3 linked regions of the Homo sapiens genome follow. The protein of the gene in region 1 purifies or fractionates together with the protein of each later gene. This does not show direct contact. Each region holds a gene or a part of one and is shown in the gene's direction. Other genes may lie near its edges.

Evidence for each region.
Region 2: the proteins of CDH19 (region 1) and TPP2 purify together in Homo sapiens (affinity purification with mass spectrometry; 2 studies listed by BioGRID and IntAct, with this or other methods). This does not show direct contact.
Region 3: the proteins of CDH19 (region 1) and SETX purify together in Homo sapiens (affinity purification with mass spectrometry; 2 studies listed by BioGRID and IntAct, with this or other methods). This does not show direct contact.

The regions. Positions count from the first base shown.
Region 1 is NC_000018.10:66,601,080-66,608,556, reverse strand, and holds the start of CDH19 (cadherin-19 isoform 1 preproprotein), read left to right. Parts: upstream 1-4,466; 5' UTR 4,467-4,603; intron 4,604-7,477. UniProt on the Homo sapiens protein: Cadherins are calcium-dependent cell adhesion proteins. They preferentially interact with themselves in a homophilic manner in connecting cells; cadherins may thus contribute to the sorting of heterogeneous cell types.
Region 2 is NC_000013.11:102,599,965-102,606,991, forward strand, and holds part of TPP2 (tripeptidyl-peptidase 2), read left to right. Parts: intron 1-4,828; coding exon 4,829-4,957; intron 4,958-7,027. UniProt on the Homo sapiens protein: Cytosolic tripeptidyl-peptidase that releases N-terminal tripeptides from polypeptides and is a component of the proteolytic cascade acting downstream of the 26S proteasome in the ubiquitin-proteasome pathway.
Region 3 is NC_000009.12:132,344,981-132,352,007, reverse strand, and holds part of SETX (probable helicase senataxin), read left to right. Parts: intron 1-2,572; 5' UTR 2,573-2,579; coding exon 2,580-2,756; intron 2,757-5,536; coding exon 5,537-5,747; intron 5,748-7,027. UniProt on the Homo sapiens protein: Probable RNA/DNA helicase involved in diverse aspects of RNA metabolism and genomic integrity.

The DNA.
Region 1 (7,477 bases):
TAAGAAGTAACCAAAATTTTATAAAAACATGGAAACTCTTCCAGAAATTAAATGTTCATATTAATATTGTCCTGGTGAAAGAAAAAGTAAAAGTTAATCTACCGTTTCAAAGAGGTTGGTGCCTAGGTGAGATGTTTCTAATAAATTCTGGTAATATAAACAGAAAACAAGGCTGACATACCTCTACACGTTTATGTCTGAATTTAAGTATTTTGGGTTGTTTGTTTGCATATTGACAATTACTAAATTATTCTTGTAATGAGCCTTTTTTGTTATTTATACATTTATTCATTGTTAATTACTATAATGGATTTCTTCCGTCATGGAGATTATGTTGCGGCTTGGCAAATATACATACATATATATATTTCTTAAATATACTGCTCCAGAGAAAAGTCTTCTTACAAAAGAAAATAAAAACAAAACAACTTTGGGAGGCCGAGGCGGGCAGATCACGAGGTCAGGAGATCGAGACCATCCTGGCTAACACGGTGAAACCCCGCCTCTACTAAAAATACAAAAAATTAGCCGGGCATGGTGGCAGGTGCCTGTACTCCCAGCTATTAGGGAGGCTGAGGCAGGAGAATGGCTTGAACCCAAGAGGCGGAGCTTGCAGTGAGCCGAGATCGCCCCACTGCACTCCAGCCAGGGTGACCGAGCAAGACTCCGTCTCAAAAAACAAACAAACAAATAAATAAATGAATTAATTAATTAATTAAATATAAAAAGAAAAAGAAAAAAGAATGAATACAAAAATAAGAAAATAAGGACATATATATGACAATAAAATTTTTTATTATATTAGACAAGTGGCTACTGTAACTAGAATTTAAAAGATAAATCTTCAAACCATACAAATTGTTGCCATATTCAAGACAATATTTCTTTACTCTGAGCAAAATTTGTGTAATTTTGATACAAAGTATTTTAGCATGGTTAGAAGTATATAGATTAGTGAATATTTTGTTTATTGTTTGTTCTATCATTGTGCATTTTTTTATTTCCCCATATTTATCATTGTGATATATATTCAATGTTAAAAACAGAATGGAAAACACAGCAAATTGGACTGTTGGAAAAGAATGCCATTTAATGGCAATCCATGGAGAAAATTATTATTTTTATTTTCAGCATTTTAAAAGCTATTTTACATGAATATCTGAAGTGAACACTGGACGTCTAGTTGGTTATCAACTAGATTCAACCACTCCACTCTAATTTGGGGAAATGAATCTGTTTTTCTATCAACTAACTCTTTCTCTCAGGTTCAGGAATGACAATTACTTTAAGCTTTTCTTGTTGCCATTCTTTGTTCATGCATGGACAAGTGATCATTTTGATGAATAAGACGAAAGTGACAGTGTTTTTGAGGGCCTTGAGGAAAAGTTGGAGAACCAAACAGAGCCCAAGAACCTAGATAACTGATTGCAGTAGGAAGCCACTGGATCAACTAACCCTTAACCCTACTTTATTTCTCTATGTATACATTGAATTTCTTCATTATTCTATTCATTTTTGGATTTGATTTTGTTTGATTTTGCTATCTGCTTGCTAGTCAATAGATTTCTCATTGATATAGTGATAGCATACAGTAAATATCTGTTTTAAATGTTCTTGTATTAACATATTATAAGCTTTTCCCAAAACAACTTAAATATATTTTTAAGAACTAAAATGCTTCCAGACCATGTGAGAAGGATGTGGTCCTTAGATTATGCTATCCTGACAACACCTGATTGGACAAGGCCTAAATTTCTAATTGAAGGCACATGTATAGCCTATGATATAAAGTAGGTAGACTTAAACTTTCTGGTTAAATGTCTATTTTCAAGGGACAGATCAGAGCTTGCATAATGTTTGACTTTCCATTTCTGCCTGTTCAGTTAAATTCAAACTTCATTAGCCAGTCTTGTCTGCGGTTAGTCATTAGATATATATTTCTTAATTATCTGGTTTAAAAAATTGGTGGCTCTGAATTATAATACTTGAATTCAAATTTTTATTTAGAGTAACTCAATACAATCCTGGCTTCTGCAACTTCAAGCTCTGTTCCTTAGCCTGCTGGCAGGTGATAACTGTGAAATTCCCCCAGACTGCATGTGAAAATAGACCAGAATGTCACTGTGCAGCTATAAAACATCACTTGTGTTTCGGGAATTGTCCATCCTGCCACATGTTTACTGCTGTGGGGACCTCAGATAACTCTGAGTATGATAACTCTGACTTACATATGGATAGTAGTGTATTTAATTTTGAGCTTCTGTTCTTACACAGTCATGTTCCATTTACTATGTATTACCCCCCCATATATGAAAAATTAGTCAGATATATTTCTCTTGTTATAAAGAAAATGACGTAGAAGTAATCATTAAGCTGGGCCGGGTACGGTGGCTCAAGCCTGTAATCCCAGCACTTTGGGAGGCCAAGGCGGGCGGATCACGAGTCAGGAGATCGAGACCATCCTGGCTAACATGGTGAAACCCCGTCTCTACTAAAAATACAAAAAAATTAGCAGGGCGTGGTGGCGGGCGCCTGTAGTCCCAGCTACTCGGGAGGCTGAGGCAGGAGAATGGCGTGAACCCGGGAGGTGGAGCTTGCAGTGAGCCGAGATTGCGCCACTGCACTCCAGCCTGGGCGACAGAGAGAGATTCCATCTCAAAAAAAAAAAAAAAAAAAAAGAAGTAATCACTAAGCTTATCTGATGACCAGTCCCCTAAGTACTTCCAAGTCTTCATTCTTGGTTGTGGCATAGCGGATGAATCTTGCTGGATCCTTGGCTATCGGCTGTTCATCTTATATCCTCTTCCAGAAAGGGCATGCATTTCTTAAGCAATTTACAGCAACTAGTTCCTGTACGTGTTTGATAATAGATTATCTATTTAATAAAATCAGTTTGCTGTTAATGATATTCTACATAAAACATGTAGTTTCACACTGTACCTTCTTTAGAAAATTTAATCCTGTCTCACTGTGGTTTCTATAGTTGCCATTGCTCTTTATTGGTACTGTAATAATCAGGGCAGCAAATTGTGACCCACCTTTGCTCCCTTAGGCTCTAAAATAAGCCTTTGGGACATCATGTTTACAGGTACACTGAGGCTCTAAACTGTGGTTTCAATCCTAAGTGCAACTGGATATTTTATAAACATCAAGATATAAATTGGCATCTCATAAAATGTTAGATTCTTACAGAAATCCTAGACTAGGTCATAGACAGAACAGTGAATTATGTAAATAAATATTTTAAACAGGTATCTCCACCTTTTTTGATACTGTAAAAAATATGAAGGGGGAAATGTATAAGAATACTTCAGAGGTTCTTTGTAAAATTTATTTTTTCCCTATTTACTAACATCTTGAAACACTTAGAAGTGTTTTTTTCTAGCTGAATGCTTTTTTCTACCTGAAAAAATAAAATATTTCCACATTATACTGTTCCTGCTATCCACAGATCTATTCTCCCAGGTTCATCTCTTCAAGATTTGTTCATAAATTATTGATTCCTCCTAATATTCACAACCTCATAGGATGTGCATTTGTGCGTGTGTGTGCATATGTATGTGTGTGCACATGTATGTGTATGCATGTGTGCACATGTGCATGTGTGTATATGTGTGTGCTTGAGTGTCCTACTTTACTGCCCATATAGCTTTTGCCATTTCTTTCCTCAAAAGCTAAGAGGATAGTGACCAAAATATCTATCAGAATTAACAGGATGCTTGAATAATCCTGCCCCACATAGACTTTCTTATTATATAGGTATAATTTAAGAAACTTTTAATATTTTAATGTTTCTCTAGTTTGGTTCAAAAATGGTTTTTAAGTAAATAACAGCTTGAGTAAACAGCATAGAAAATACATATGTATTTTATGTTAAATAATAATAGCTTATATCAAAATCTAATTATAACCATGAATAAAATAAAAGATTTTACATAATAATAAACCAAGGAAAAGAAAAGGACTTATTAAAGTTTAGACATTTCTCTCTCATTATGTCTTTACTTGATTTCTGAGGAGAAATGACCGAATTAAGAAACAGCCATGAGGCATAGACACACAGTGGAAAATCATTTCTCTTTTCAGTAAGTTTTGGGTCTGCTTTAAATTGATCATTTGTTTCATCAGCTAATCCCCAAACAGAGGGCACGTCCGCTCTACTTGCAAAATTCTTGTATGTAAGTTGAATTCTCCCTTTATCAACTCAGGCCAATAAGTACTTTATTTTGTTTTTGCTTGTTGTTAGGGGAAAAAAAAAAAAAACAAAGATAATCAGCTCATACTACTTGCGTAGCTGTCTGCATTTTAATTCCAGACTATGAACGAGCGTCAGAGTGCCCTTATGATATTTTGCACAAAAGGCTCAGTGTTTATGACTCTACTCAGAGAACCCAAAATAGCATTGAGTAAGCAGTGACATACTGACAGTGTTGTGGTACTAAAAGCACAAGCGTCTGTAACTCTGGGCAATGGGGCACATCGAGAGTTTGCTGAGAAGACTGTGAAGCAAAAAGAAGAAAGTTTTTCCTACTCTTCCTTATGTGTCCAACACGAAGTTTGCTGTTCAGTTTTCACAGAACTTCTAGAAGTTGAAGTTACAAAGGTAAGACTGTGATAATCAGGCATATTATAAACTACATGCATCATCTTTAATGAGTCAATAGGTCAAAAAGTACATGACAAAATGTTGCTAGGAAAATATTCTAAAAATATTAAGGAAAATATTTACATAGGAAATAAGGAAAATATTCTAAAAATTTTAAAACCATGATGTGTACTTGTACTGAACTTTCTCAAAACACGTATTTGTGAGAACAGTTCTCCATCTCTGTAATACAGATTGTTGGTGTTGGGGGGAAGTTACACCTATGTTAGGATATTTAAAACTTCTCAAGTTTCTTAGAATAAATGAATCAACCTTTCTTTGCATGTCTTTCTTTGCACTTTTTTCTTTGTTCAGGGTTTTATTTTTTATTTATCATGTATTTACCATGTATATCAGGTAATATGAACAATAGAGTTGTCATCATTAAGTATATGAGAAAAAATATATACAGAATAAATATGAAAAATTTTAAGTATATTATAATTCCAAAAAAATTAAAATATTAGCATTGCTATGAATAAAAACACATATATGCCTAAAATTGTACAGGCATATTAATTTACCTATATGTATTATAACATTTATACATAACACAAAAGGTAATTTCTCAAATATGAAAGTATAAATTAAGAAAAGTATAAATTAGGAAAATGCATACTGTAAAAGACATTTTATATTGTTTCAATTCTAATTTGGTACATGCAATTTTAATTGAATAACTAATTATAATAAAATATTTCAAAATAAGTTTACCAAAGGGATTTAATAAATCTATTAAATATAAAAACATAAAATATTTAGCAACAAAAAATACCTAAATAGAGTGGCAAAGGTTTTCTTTAGATTATGTCAATTTATATTTTAGCTCTATTAATTCATTTGTTGAATTAATATATCTGTAAGAAAGACATTATTTAGATAAAATATTTGAAAATTTAGTAATATATATTTATGTTTTAGATGTAGTTACAATATTAAGTAAAATTATATGCATTAATATATTCTTTTTTCAAATTCTTAATATTGTAATTATCAGCAGTATGCCTACTTACTATAATTTTTGATTTCAAAGAATTTAAATTTCAATGTAATGTGAACATTTATATTGACCAAATAAAATAACTAACAATTTATTTTTAAAAGGAATAAGCATTTCATTATTGTCTGCAATTATTCAAAATTTTTAAACAATCAATTTATGTCATTTAGAAACCACCAGATCTCCTTTCCTTTACATATGTTTTCCACTTTACCAAGCCTTTATAACAGTGAACGAAATGCTCATATCATTATATAAATATCTGATTTTTACAGTCTTACACATTAGTAAATTCTTTACTTAGGCTCCAGTGAAATATTTATAATTTTAGGCACACACAGACACATCTGCATATATCGAAAAGCATATGTCTTCTACTTATATTTTTTGTTTTGTTTTGTTTTTCACTTAGGAATGTTTGTAAGGTACATTTCCTCAAGAAACATAAAAAAATTTTTGATTAAATTATCATAAATTGAAGATGCTTTAAAATGATGTGCACAGATGCCTCCTATGCATTATTAAGAAACCAGATCCATCTTTCAGGAATTTCTCCTAATACAGCTACATATAATCTGATACATATCATCTATAACTAAATATCAACTGATCATTTTTGCCACTCATGATCTTAGCATGTACTCTTAAATATATGTTATGTTTAAAACATTACATAGCAGTATTCAGCATGTTAGTGAGTAGTAATGCATTAGGAATAAATGTGTTAAACTGTTTAAAAGGAGATATTGATCTTTCTATATACCTTCTTTACATGAGAATTTATTGCTCCTAACCAAGTGTTTGAGAACCATGCTGGTGAATAAGAAAAATTTGTTGTCACGACGATTTCCTTTAACATCGATGATCTTCTATCACCTGTATCTTTGCTTTGGTGAAACAGATTGAAGTTGAAACACAACTAAGTATGGAACGTAATAATAATCCCACAGGAATCCTTTCTATCAATGGTGAAGACAGCCCCTGATTGACAAAATGAGTGTCTTTGCAAAAGTGACTAGAAAGATGTTTGCCACTTTAAAATCAAATCAAAACAAAACAAGATAAACTGTACCCTTACAGCGTTTTTTTTTACCCACTCTCACCACCTTTCAATTGAGAGAACACAGCTAAATGCTCTAAAGCCTGTCAAAATGTGTAACAGATCAATTTCCTTTTCAAATGATGCCTGCCCTCTTGAATATGCTGATATGATTCGTTAAGAGAATGCTTGTCTGAATTTAAAACATACTCTAGAATACATACCTTTGTCAAAATGTGTCACATTAATTACTCAATAATTATATTCAGAATCATCCAAGTATGTCTTAAGATTAAAGCAAAACATCATTTTTAAAAATCCTGCCTTGGCACAACACGTGAAATTTGAAATGTTATTTTAGGACAGTGGTTTCTCAACATACCAGAGCAGTAGATCCAGTTTAGCTGTTTTTTAATTCTAAGAAGTTTCATGATAAATGAAATTTGCAAATTTGCAAGATACTGTATTAAAGTGGGGATAATTTTGGCACATCAGTCATGTCTTAAAATAACCTAGGCAGTTTTATCTGTGTGCAAAATTTAGAAATGTCATTCCTGTGGAAATGAGCAAATCATAAATACATCACAGAAAAGAAGTCGCTATTTTTTTGACTTTAAGTTGTTTTATAGTTAAATTGTGTCAGAGAGTTTGCCATCTATTTTATTCCTAAAAAGGCCTGGTGGAGAATATATGACTTTCCTTGATGTAGAGATAATACTACTAAACATAAAGATAAACATAAAATGTAACTAGAATAATAATAAAGGCAAAGAGAAAAGGTATAGATGCATCT
Region 2 (7,027 bases), on another chromosome or scaffold:
CATTTCTAGAGTTAGATTCCTTAAAAAAAAAAAAAAACCTTGTATTATACCCTCATTTAAAACAAAGCCATTTTGGAATCTCAACTGCTTTTGTGTAAAAATTAAAAAAAAAAATTGAATGGTATATATGAGGCCATTTGCCATCCAACTCTGGCCTCCTTATGTAGCCTCAGTTCTCATCATTTCTTATGTCCATAGCCCCTTCATCCCCACCTTTCATCCTTTGCCTCCCCTTGAACATTTCATTCTTACACTCACCTAGATGTTTCAGGTCTTTTTGCCAATACATGCCTTTACATGTGGCGTTTCATCTTCCGTCAGGCTTCTACCATCCGTCATCTGTAAACTCCTGCTTCATCCTTTAAGATCCAGTCGGGTCTTGACACCATTATGTTTTGGAAAATCAACTGATTTAATTCTGCGCGCCCCCTCCCCCCACCACCTCGTATTTATGTGTGTTTGCCATTGTGTTAGGGCCTGCAGCTTCAGAGGTGAGTAAGGCCCAATCCCTCCTAAGAGTTATTTAGGCTTTTTGTCTCTTTGCTGTTATAGCAATTTGCTTAGATCCCCTTAATAGCACCTGAAATATGTATTTTAGTGTTTCTGTTTAGATAACTTTTTCCTGGTTAACTTAAAAATCTTTGAAAGCATGTATCAAAATTGTATGACATGTGCTTGTAATGTTAAATGTTTTTGTTGAATGGAAAAAATATATATGGGCATAATGAAGGAATATAATTTCCTCATAGAGGGAAAAAAAAGGTTTGAGGAGGTTACGAGTAGTTTCATAAAACTCTATTTTTACATTCACTAAAATTTTATTACCTCTCTTTCAGTTAGCTTTCCCTCATTCCCCCCAAGTTGGGTTTTGTGTTTTTACATGTTTTTGTATGCTTTCATAGATAGTGTCCTAACCTCTTTTTTTTTTTTCCCTCAAAGACAGGGTCTCACTCTGTCACCCAGGCTGGAGTACAGTGGCACAGTGGCAGGATCACCACTCATTTCAGCCTCAAACTCCTGGGTTTAAGCAAGCCTCCTGCCTCAGCCACTGCAGTAGCTGGGACCATAAGCATGTGCCACCATACCCAGCTAATTTTTTAATTTTTTTGTAGAGACAGGGTCTCACTGTGTTACCCAGACTGGCCTGACCTCTATTATTTGTTGTCCTGTTTTGTCATCATCTCTCTACTTACTTTTTCTTTCCAACCAATAGTAACCTTTACAAAAGCAAAGATTGTCTTATTTATATTAATCATTATATTCTTAGAATAAAAGTCACTGGTTAATATTTATTAAATCTTTATTTGCTTAAAAGAATATTTTCAGTACCTTTCCTGAAATTTTAAGTCAACTCATTAACTTTGTGTTGTTTATGATAGATTGCAAACTTCCCGCCATTTGTTCTGGTCCTCTCTGCAAATGTCCTACCTTTTGTTCTGGTCCTCTCTGCAAATGTTTGGCAAATCTTCCAACCTTCACTAACTCCTCTACCTTACTGGTTACATTGAAGACATACACTAACTTAGATTCTTGACATTTTGGGAAAAGCTTTGGGCAATTTCTGTTTCATCCAGCCAACATAGCCCAGTAAGCATTTCCCAGTCTCCCACCCCAGGACCCAGGATTTAATACCGAAGCTCTTACCGATACTAACTGCCCATGCTTTCAGTCCCTCTTTCCCATGTGAAGCCTCCCCCTTCTCAGAGATGAGTGATATAGTTCCATTGTTAGCAGTTCAGCTTCCTCCTTTCCTTTACTTCTCCCAAAACACCATGGCAAATCCTCAGGGGGTTTGCCTTTTTAAAACCCTCCTCTGACCCTACATTTCTGTTTTTGTCTTTTTATGTCTAGTGAAGTGGTTTTCTTTATCTAATATTAAAGTAAGAAATTCATGGATAGGATAATTGCATGTATAATAATTTGTAATGAAAATTTGTGTGTGTAGGAGAGAGATCCTTGTAAGTAAAGCATGTGGAAATAGGTGACAAATAAGCCATTAAATCCCATTAGGCTTTTTTCCTTTGCTAATATATTGATAATGAGGTTTCTAATGAGAGATCTATCTGACTTGTTAGTGCTCTCTTGTTATTCTTGATCTCAAGTCACTCAGGTTTGCTTATTGAGGTGAAGATAGGTGATTTGGGTTCTTAGTGCTACTGTATATCTTTCAAATTTCATATTGGAATACATTTTAAAATAGGTGATTTTCTTATATGATTAGTACATGACCTAGCTAGTTTTAATTTTATAAAGTAGTATCAACTTAATTTTGTTTCCATTTTTATTTTGGTAGATTTTCTTACATTTTTCTCTTTTTTAATTATATTTTTGAGACATATAGCCTATCTCTTCAGAATCAGTATCTGATTTAAGTTTTATAGTTGTATCAGGGTTTGGTATGATTCCCACAGTGATTTTTTTTAATTATGACTTTGAGTTTTCTGAGTATTAGAATTCTTATTTGTTACTATTATAGGACAGTTCCCAAGAAGTAAACATCCAACTTGAGAATTACCATACATGAAAATAACAGCTGTGCCTGGGAGGCCTTTATGACCCCTTCAGCTATCAGGCCCTCAGTTGTTCCATGGCAACAAGATTGAAATGAGATTTGGGGTCCACCAACCACCCATTTGCTTTGTCCGGTAAAGGAAAAAAAAATGTGTGCTTTTGTTTTCTCCACATCGAGAATTTCCCTCTCCTTCTTCAGGGTATACCTTAATTACAGAGCTTGGAGGTTATTGCAGAGGAAATACTTGTGTTGGGGTGAGGGGCATGTTGGTCAGAAAGACCCAGAGCAGTGGACATTAAGCTTTGTCGTAAAGAGTGTGAATTCTCCAGGTGGAATTGGAGTCTGAAGACTGTGCTCTTCCACTTTACTGACAGTTTCTACGGTTTTTATGTTTCTGTTTCTTTCTTGAGGATGGAGTTTTTTTGTTTTTTTGTTTTTTTGTTTTTCGTTTTTTGTTTTTTTTTCAGTCGTTGTGTCTCTGTTTTCTGGCTGATTCCTGCTGGTAACTCAGTACATATTCCTGAATGCAACAAATTCCCTTTGGAAAGCCAGCCAAGAAAGAGCCCAGAAATTATTTTCCCACAAAAATGTGTAAAAATATATATTGTTACTTGTAGCAATCATGTTATGGCTCAAATGAAAATTTGTGGACTGGCAAGAAATCAAACCTTTGAAAATCAGTCTTAGTGCTAAGTAACTTGTGTCTTGTAATTCAGTAATGAAGTATTCATTGAATGCCTGACAGGCACTGCTAGGTAGTGGGTATATGTATGTTCGTGAATAAAGTAGACATGGCTCTTGCCTTCATGGAGCTTTCTATTCTAATAGGGGGAACAGATGAAGATCACCTACTTGTATCATTAGAAATAGAATTATGTTCTGTGAAGGAAATGAGGTACAGTGAGAAAAAATAATCCAGTTTAGGATGGCAGCTACCTAAAGGAGGTCATCGAGGAGGCCTTTCTGCAGGAGGGACTTTAATAGAAAACTGAGAGAAGATAGAATCCTGTGGAACAACTGAAGAGATAAAGAATTCTAGGCAGAAGGAACCTGTTTAAAAAGTCATGAGGCAGGAAAAAGTTTGGCATGTTTCAGGAATTGAAAGGAGGTTGGCGTGGTTAGACTCCTGAGTAACGGGGTGGCAGGGGTCAGATGGTGCGAGGCTTTTTATGCGAGTATTCTGAGTGCTCCATGAATACATTGATGGGCTTAAAGGAGAGGACTGATAAAATACAGCTTGTTTTAATACAGGTTGAGTATCGCAAATTCGAAAGTCTCCAATGAACATGTCCTTTGAACTTCATGTCCATGATTTTGGAGCATTTGGAATTTTCAGGTTAGGGTCACTCAGCCTGTATTACTTTTGATGGGGCCAAGAGTGGAAACTGAGGGACCACTTAGGTAATTCACCTCATGGAGGCAAGAGATGGTGGTGGTTTGGAAAGTTAGGATAGTGGTAGTGAAAATGCAATGGATTTGAGCTCTCTTCTAGACAAAGAATTAACAGGATTTCCTGTTAGCTTCGCTGTGAGGAGTCAACTGAAGTAAAGAATCAGAGGAGGATTGTTAAGTTTCCAGTGTGAACAGCTGGGCGTGGGGATTCCTGGGATGGCAAAGCCTGGAGAAAATCAGGTGGTGGGGGGCATGTTAAGCTTGAACTTTGTTGCGTTTGAGGTGCTAGTGTGGCATCCAATAATGGTGCCATTAAATGGTACCATTACTACTAAACATTTTTTCCCCCTAAAGCTCTAAACTTGTCCAGCCCACAGCTCACCATCTTTAGATCTTTTCTCAAATGTTACCATCTCAGCAAGGCCTTCCTTGACCAGCCAAACTTATGTTGAAAACCCCACACTGACCATCTCCCTTCCCTGCTTAATTTTTCTCCATAGTTAATTTTCACCATCTGACATGTTCTTTTTTTTCCCTAATACCCAGTGTGATAGCACATCTGACATGTTCTTTATTTTACTTTGTTATTAACTGAACTGCTTTCTCGCTATAAGATCGTCAGGGATTTTTGCGTATGGATCACTGCCATATCCCCAGCACCTAAAATAGGGTGTGGTCTATAGTAAATGCTCAGTAAATATTTGTTTATTGAATATATGAAACGACTTGAAGGATTCTGTAGTGTTTCCACGATTAAATTTTCTTACTAGTATTTGTTCAGGCTTTTGGCTTAAAACAGTTCAGTTCTCTTTTTTAAGTGAATGTAGATTTTGTATATACACACACATATATATGTGGATTTGCATTGTTTAGGAATAAAAACCTAAAATCTACCATTCATATTTTAATTTTCTTAATTTTCAGGTTACAACTGATGGAAAACCAAAAATCGTTGATATCATTGATACAACAGGAAGTGGCGATGTGAATACTGCTACAGAAGTAGAGCCAAAGGATGGTGAGATTGTTGGCCTTTCAGGAAGAGTGCTTAAGGTGAGACCTTTTGTCTTCTTTTTGAATTTTTTTTTTTTTACTCTTGCCTCAAAGCATCTAATGTTTTTACCTTACATTTGGTGGTGGTATTAGTTATCCATTGCCACATATCAGATTACCTCAGAACATCCTGGTTTAAAATGACAAATATTTATTACCTCGGAGTTTCTGTGAGTCAGGAATCTGGGTGTGGCTTAACGGGGTTCCAGTCGCCCTGGAGGTTGCAAATGGTTAGCCATGGCTGTGACTTCAGCTGAAGGCTCAGCTTGGGAGAAGAAGGGGAAGTTTGTTTCCAAGCCTACTGGTGGGTCACTGGCAGGCCTTGGCTCCTTGCCATTGGGCCTCTCCGCAGTGCTGCAGTACCTGGCAGCACCTTCCCTGGGGGAGTGAGCCGAGAGAGTCCCCACGATGAAAGCCACAGGCTTTTTATAAAAGTGACCTTCTAAGGGACCACCTATCACTTGACTATATTGAGCTCATTGGAAGTGAGTTAATAAATCTAGCACACACTTAAGGGGAAGGGATTTCACAAGAAATGAATCATTGGAGCTGTCTTAGAAGAAGCCATTATTTTGTTGTTTGATGAGGTAATTAGAATTGGGCGGTATTTTTCAGTGAGCTTGCCAAATTTTATGTTTTGAATACAAAGATAGAGAAAGTAACCACATCATAGCTTTGCCTTCATGTTTTACTGTCCCTTCATAGTATTCCCAGTTAACTTGACCATGAAGAAATACTTAGGCTATAGTAGCTGTTAACTTAAATGGCCAGCTTTGTCTTTTTTTTTTTTTTAAACTTCTTTTTTTCTTTTTTTTTTCGAGACATAGAGTCTTGCTCCGTTGCTCAGGCTAGAGTGCAGTGGTGCAATCTTGGCTCACTGCAACCTCCGCCTCCCGGGTTCTAGCAATTCTCCTGCCTCAGCCTCCCAATTAGCTGGGATTACAGGTGCCCGCCACCACGTCCAGCTAATTTTTGTATGATTAGTAGAGACAGGGTTTCACCATTTTGGCTAGGCTGGTCTCGAACTCTTGACCTTGTGATCCGCCTGTCTCAGCCTCCCAAAGTGCTGGGATTATAGGCGTGAGCCAGGGCACTCGGCCTACCAGCTTTGTCTTATTCTATGTCCTTGGTAGAAAGGCCTGGGTAAGCTAAACGTAAAAAATAATTATAAAGCAAGCACAGAGGAGCTCATGAGCTAAGGAGCATGAAGGATGGATGGCAAGAATTTGTGATCCTGTACTCTTAAGCAGCATTAGTTTGGAACATAAAATTATGGTTATTTAGTTAGCTTTTCCCACCTTTTGCCATCTATCTGAATTGTTCTTAGGTCTTGTCTTTTAAGTAAGCTTGTTGTGGCAGCATATTGGCTTTCTGTGCCGTGTAATAAAGCACCACAGACTTAGCCGCCTAAAACCTTGTGTATTCCTGTATTTATTATATCACTGATTCCATGGGGTAGGAGTCCAGGCATGGCTTTTTGTGGGTCTCTGCTCAGGGTCTCACAAGACTGCAGTCAAGATTAAAGGCTCAGCTGAGGCTCAGGCTTCTTTTCCAAGTTTACATGATTGTTGGAAAAATTCATTTCATTGCAGCTGTAAAACTCATGATAGCTTGCTTCTTCAAGGCCAGTAAGAGAATCTCTGACCTTGGTGATGACCCCAGTCTTTCTTTTAAAGAACTCACCTGATTAGTTCAGGCCCGCTGAGAATCATGTCACTTTTGATTTGCTCAGAGTCCTTAATTGCGTCTGCAAAATCCCTACACCTTCTTTACGTACCATAACGCAATCATGGGAGTGACATCTCATTATATTCACGGGTCCTGCCTTCACTTAGGGGAGGGACGTGGGTCTTCTTAGAAATCTGCCTGTCATGGGCAGATAGCAGCCATTAATAATCCAGGTTCTACTTCCTTTTCTGTGTGTTAGGAACTGATTATCTGTGTCCCCACCCCCTGCCAAAATTCATACATTGAAGCCCTATCCCTCTTTGTGTTGGTATTTGAAAGTTGGGCCTTTGGGAGGTATTTAGGGTTAGATGAGGTTATGAGTATGTGTCCCCTCAGGATAGG
Region 3 (7,027 bases), on another chromosome or scaffold:
TGGATAGCCTAAGGATAAGTCTGTAGAAAATTACAGTAATACCTATGGTGAAGCATCCTATATTTTTGGTTTTGACACATTAGCTCTCTTTTTGGTGGGTGCTCAGAGAGTTGCTTTAATTTTGGTTTTGCAACTTGAGTATTGTCTGGACACACCCATTTGTCATTCACTAATGATTGCAAGCCGTTACAGTCTGATGAAACTAACAAAATAGACCTCAAGAAGAACTGAGTTGTATAAAAGCTTAAGAGGATTCACAGTAGTTTAGAAGCAATAATTTTCTCCTTAAAGACAAAATATGCCCTATTGAGGTTTCCTGGGCTTAGCCATTAGGCCAGTGATGATTTTAAATTTGAAGACAAAACCACACACACAGCCTTTTGAAGAAGAACCATGGAAGCACATGTTCTCTTGTTGGTGTGCTCTGCAGCAGTATTCTCCGTTATCTTCTAGCGGCCATGACACTCACCTATTTTGGTAGTAACTCCTATATATTTTGAGAAAATTTAGTCTTGCTTTTTTGGTTGTGGAAATAGGCTAGTTTTCTAAGTGAAATAAAAAGCAAATTCTGTAATTTTCTTAATAGAAGGTTTCTTTTGTTGTCTCCTTTGTTAGTACTTATTTTAAAGTACACAACATTTGGAGCTTCAAGTAAGGTAAGTGGGAAAAGAAGTATGCAACATTTTATTTGCATGGTAGTCTCACTTAAGTTTTTTAAAGCTTAAATTGGCTGCAGTCTGTTAGCTGCTGAAATCATGCTTCAAATGTTTGAGAAACCTCCATGAAGTTTCACTTTCTGTTCTTACGTCTTCTAAGTTCACTTTCCATATTAAACTAGGTTACCGGAAAAAAAAACAGCTTCTGCAAGCTGTTAACTTACTAGTAGTGTGATGTTGGCCTCTTAGGTATAAGTAATTCTTCTTTTGAATAAAATAATTTTAAATTCTGCAGAAATACATTGAAGACCTTATCCCATGTTACTTGGCATTTCCTAGTCTGCAGTGCCCTTGTACTAGAAGGCATTAATAAAATGTAATTGAGTTAGAGTTTGTGTCAGGAAAGGGCGGTACTCTGCGGCTATCACTGCATACTCTTTTTCCCCCCCACGTCGATGAGAACTGTGTAACTCATGTTATCCTTTTTCTCTGCTTTCAGGAAGCTCCTCATGTAGAACTTAGTGAAATTAAATTTCTTCTAAAGAAGTTTTGATTTTGTTTTTTGAAATCTCATTTTTAAATGTCCTTTTGTGTGTATGTACTTTAATGTTGAAAGCTACCCTAAATTCTTTTTAGAACCATGAAGAAAGTATACCTCTTCAAAAGCATAAGTAAAAGTAATATTTAATAAATTTTAAAAAATCAATTCATATGACAATGTATTTGATTATGCTTATGCATTTCTAAATAATTATTTAATTGTGGGTATAAGAAGAAATTAAAGAATTTTAAAAAATCACTTTATTTTAGGAACTAGCTTTATGCCACAGAAGCCTCAGCAGCCAAGCCTAGTTTCTGTTGAGATGTTTTATATTTCCTGTTGGTAAAGATTATGTATTCTGAATTTTAGGGTGACGGTGATACTCAAAAATCTCACACTGCCATGTTTCCATTCCCACATACTCAGTGTCTTCACTTAGGTTTCTTTTGTTTGTTTGTTTTGAGACAGAGTTTCACTCTGTCACCCAGGCTGGAGTGCAGTGGCGCAATCTTGGCTCACTGCAACCTCTGCCTCCCACGTTCAGGCAGTACTCCTGCCTCAGCCTCCCAAGCAGCTAGGATTGCAGATGCGCACCACCAGCTAATTTTTGTATTCTTTTTAGTAGAGATGGGGTTTCACCATGTTGGCCAGGCTGGTCTCGAACTGCGGACCTCAAGCAGTCTGCCCACGTCGGCCTCCCAAAGTGCTGGGCTTACAGGCATGAGCCACCGTTCCCAGCTTACTTAGGTTTTTTAACCTCCTTCTAACCTTTCTCCCTGAGTGGAGAGTTTTTAAACATTTTTAAAAACTGCCTCTCCTGTGAATTTTATTACCACCAATATATTGTGTCTCTCTTTATGTACTGTATGTTTATCTGAGCTTTATATCTAAAAAGAGGAGGGCTTTTTCACGTCCCACTAACTAGTTTTAGATCTCTTTGAGGGTGACATCACTCCTGATGAGAATGCTGAGCTAGGTCCATTCAGTTTATGAAATGAACTTAAGTTTGTAGTTGGTAACTTTTTTCCCCATTCCAAAATCTGTACTTTGAAAATATTGGTAAGTCTGGGTCTCTATATATTTTCTATCGGTACTGTGTTGTTTTGAGCCTTCTCTGTAGCACAACTTTATGTTGCCTTATGATACTTATTCCTTATACAATGCTTTTATTTTTCTGTATTTTTCGTATGTCAAAAATAGAAGGATTTTTTTAGTTTAGTGAATCAGTGATTGATAAGCCAGCCAGCAGAAGATTTGGGTTTTAGTGACACATTTTAAATTGAAACCAGGGTCACAAGTTGAAAGTGTACCTATTCTTGACACACAGTAGGTCTGAAGTTGGTTTTCTTCTTGATGTCATCTTTTCTGGCTGTAGGTACAGAATGAGCACATGTTGTTGGTGTACGCCAGGTGGTGCTTCCACCATTGACTTCCTAAAGCGCTATGCTTCCAACACTCCGTCCGGTGAATTTCAAACAGCCGACGAAGACCTCTGCTACTGCTTGGAGTGTGTGGCTGAGTACCACAAAGCAAGAGATGAATTGCCATTCTTGCATGAGGTAAAATATATTAGATGGGCAATATTTTTCAGAGCTTGATAGCTGGGAAGAGAGTAAGTTTGAACTCCGTTGGAAGTATTCAGAGAAATGATGATACGATTTCAACTTTGTGGGTTTTTTTTTTTGTTTTTGTTTTGTTTTTGTTGTTGTTAGAGATGGAGTCTCACTCTGTCACTCAGGCTGGAGTGCAGTGGAGTGATTATACATATATCATTTTACACATTCGAGTATATTCTTAGGACAAATTCCTGAAAGTGGAAGTGCTGTCTCATGATTTTCCATGGGCCACATGGGTTTTCATAGTTTGTTTTGCTATGTTTTGGAGACAAGGTCTTTGCTCTGTTGCCCAGGCTGGAAGTGCAGTGGTGCGATCACGGTTCACTGCAGCCTCAACCTTCTGGACTCAAGCCATCCTCCCACCTCATCCTCCTGAGTAGCTGGGACTACAGGCATGTGCCACCATGCTCTGCTAATTTTTAAAATTTTTTTGTAGAGACGAGGTCTTATTATTTTGCCCAGGCTGGTCCTGAACTCCTGAGCTCAAGTGATCCTTCCGGTTTGGCCCCCCAGTGTTGGAATTACAGGCATGAGCCACCATGCCTGGCCGACTTTGAAGGCTAATATAAGTCAAGTACCTAACTCATTGCCTGGTATATACTAGGTGCTGAGTAAATGTTTATCACGGATGGAATTGAAACCTGGATCAGAATTTTATGATCTGTTGCTTTTAGTCACATTGGTATAAAATAATTTAATGAAATAAAGTCATTGGGAGGGGATTTGTTTCATAATTTTTTGGTCAGTGCTATAATACATGCATGTATCTGAGTATCTGAATGGCCTGGGTTTTTGTTAGTGGGTTGTTTTTTTTTTGTTTTGTTTTTTTTTTGAGACAGAGTCTCACTCTCTTGTCCAGGCTGGAGTGCAGTGGCGTGATCTTGGCTCACTTCAACCTCTGCCTCCCAGGTGGGTTCAAGCGATTCTCCTGCCTCAGCCTCCCAAGTAGCTGGGACTAAAGGCACGTGCCACCACACCCGGCTAATTTTTTATTTTTAGTAGAGATGGGGTTTTACCATGTTGGCCCAGCTGGTCTCAAAACTCCTGACGTCAGGTGATCTGCCCACCTCGGCCTCCCAAAGTGCTGGGATTACAGCTGTGAGCCACTGCGCCTGGCCAGGGTTTTTTTTTTTTAATTGGTAATAATAACTTCTTTTTTTCTTTTTTTAATGGGCAAATGGCATAAACCTTTAAGGGCAAGCATATTTTCCAGTCATGATAACAAAAGTGAAAGATATAATTCTAAATATTTGGCTTTGAATATTTGGTTTATTTATTGATGAAAAACAGAACGTAGACCATAGAGATATATACAGTATATAGAGGAGAGGATGATTAGTAATGGACTTGTGTTGAGAAACGTGCACTTTATAAAGTTTTCTAATTATGAAGCTATCCAGCGTCTTTTATACCACAAGCTGCACTAAGGTAGTTAGCTATGGCTAGAACATAGAAGGGAAGACATAGAAGGGCCTCGGTTTTGCATTTGACAGAGAGGCTCCAGCTTCTCTTTTTTTTTTTTTTGAATGTAGTTGATAGGGATGTTGAGATATTTATAGAAAACTTCTACAAGAGAAGTGTTTAAGGCTGAGTGCTGTAGCTTACACCTGTAATCCCAGCACTTTGGGATGCTGAGGCAGGTGGATTACGAGGTCAGCAGTTTGAGACCAGCCTGGCCATCATGGTGAAAGTCCGTCTCTACTAAAATACAAAAATTAGCCAGGCGTGGTGGTGGGCGCCTGTAATCCCAGCTACTCAGGAGGCTGAGGCAGGAGAATCGCTTGAACCTGGGAGGCCAAGGTTGCGGTGAGCTGAGACCACGCCATTGCACTCCAGCCTGGGCGACAGCGAGATTCTGTCTCAAAAAAAAATAAAAAGTGTTTAAACATAGCATACTATTTTTTGTTTTCTTGTTTTTTTTCGTTTGTTTGGTTTTTTGTTTGAGATGGAGTTTCCCTGTTGTTGCCCAGGCTGGAGTGCAGTGGCGTGATCTTGGCTCACTGCAACCTCCGCCTCCTGGGTTCAAGCGATTCTCCTGCTTCAGCCTCCCGAATATGGGATTACAGGCATGCACCACTACGCCTGGCTATTTTTGTATTTTTAGTAGAGACGAGGTTCCTCCGTGTTGGTCAGGGTGGTTCTGAACTCCCGACCTCAGGTGATCCGCCCACCTCAGCCTCTCAAAGTGCTGGGATTACAGGCAGGAGCCAGTGTGCCTGGCCTGTTTTCTTTTTCTCTTAGAGGCAGGGTTTCCCTATGTCATCCAGACTGGAGTACAGTGGCACAATCATAGCTCACTGTAGCTTCAGATTCTTGGGCTCAAGTGATCCTTTTGCTTCAGCCTCCAGAGAAGCTAGGACTGTAGGCATGCACCACACCTAGCTAATTTTTCTATTTTTTTTTTTTTTAGTGACAGGGTCTTGCTTTGCTACCCAGGCTGGTCTCGAACTCCTGACCTGAAACAGTCCTCCTACCTCAGCCTTCCAAAATGCTGGGATTACAGCTGTGAGCCACTGTGCCTAGCCAATATCTCATACTCTGTGTACTCACTTTTCATAAAAGTGGCCACATTTGAATAGTTTTCTTTAAATCTAAAATACAAGCTCTAATACTTTACATTTCAGAATTTTTGTACTTAGGAAAAGGCTTTCTAGGTCGTCACATTCAGTGTATTTTGTTGATGATAAGACATAACGCACACTGCCCATTTTATTTTCCTCTAGGTTTTATGGGAATTAGAAACCTTACGTCTCATAAATCACTTTGAAAAATCCATGAAGGCAGAAATTGGAGATGATGATGAGTTATATATAGTAGACAATAATGGAGAGATGCCACTGTTTGACATCACTGGGCAAGACTTTGAAAATAAGCTTCGAGTTCCTCTTCTTGAAATACTGAAATATCCTTACTTGCTTCTACATGAACGTGTTAGTGAGTATCTTGATGGTTCCTCAAGTTATATCAGTTTTATTATTTTAGTACCATAAGAATTTAGGCTTATCTATATTGCAAATTTGTTTGCTAAACATATAATTAGGATATATAATTAGGACTTCATTTTTTTTCCAACGTTTTTTATTTTTTGAGTTCAAACACAAAATACCTATTTTTGGGGCACAGTTCAAACTTATCTTGTTCAGAGGGTAACTGAAGATTGTTTTTATTTTTTTTTAGAGACAGGGTCTTGCTGTGTCTCCTAGGCCGAAGTGCAGTGGCGCAGTCATGGCCCACTGCAGCCTCTACCTCCTGGGCTCAAGTAATACTCCTGCCTGAGCCTTGTGGGTAGCTGGGAGTACAGGCGTGTGCCATTGCGTCCAGCTAATTTTATGTTGTGTTTATTGTAGAGATGAAGTTTCACTGTTGCCCAGGCTGGTGTTGAACTCCTGGGCTCAAGCAGTCCTCCCACCTCAGCTTCCCAAATTGCTGGGATTATAGGCACGAGCCACTATGCCTGGCTCTCAACATTTTATTGTGAAAATTTTTTAACATAGAAAAGTAAATTATACAGTGAACATGATATACCCATCACATAGTTTATACGGTTGTTAACATTTTGCTATATTTGCTTTATTACGTATCTGTTCACCTCTTTGTTCAATTATTAATAATTTTCATTCTCGCCGGGCATGGTGGCTCACGCCTGTAATCCCATCATTTTGGGAGGCTGAGGCAGGCAGAGCACCTGAGGTCAGGAGTTCAAGACCAGCCTTGCTAACATAGTGAAACCCTGTCTCTACTAAAAATACAAAAATTAGCCAGGTGTGGTGGCAGGCACCTGTAATCCCAGCTACTCAGGAGGCTGAGGCAGGAGAATCACTTGAACCTGGAAGGCGGAGGTTGCAGTGAACCAAGATTGTGCCACTGCACTCCAGCCTGGGTGACAGACAGAGACTCTGTCTTAAAAAATAGTAATAATAATAATTTTCATTCTTGTAGTATGTCTGTGGCAGGGTTTCTCAGCCTTGCATTGGTGACATTTTGGATAATCCTTTGCTGTGGGCTGTGCCGTCCATTGTAGGATGTGTAGCAGCATCCCTGGCCTTTGTCTACTAAATGCCGCTAGCACTCCCTATCTCCTTTGTGACAACCAAAAATGTCTCCAGACATTGCTGAATACCCCTTTTGGGGGGTGAGGTATAAAATCACCCCTGGTTGGGAAATGCTATTCTGTAGTAATTTTCATTAACCACTATGGCATGGCTTATTATAGC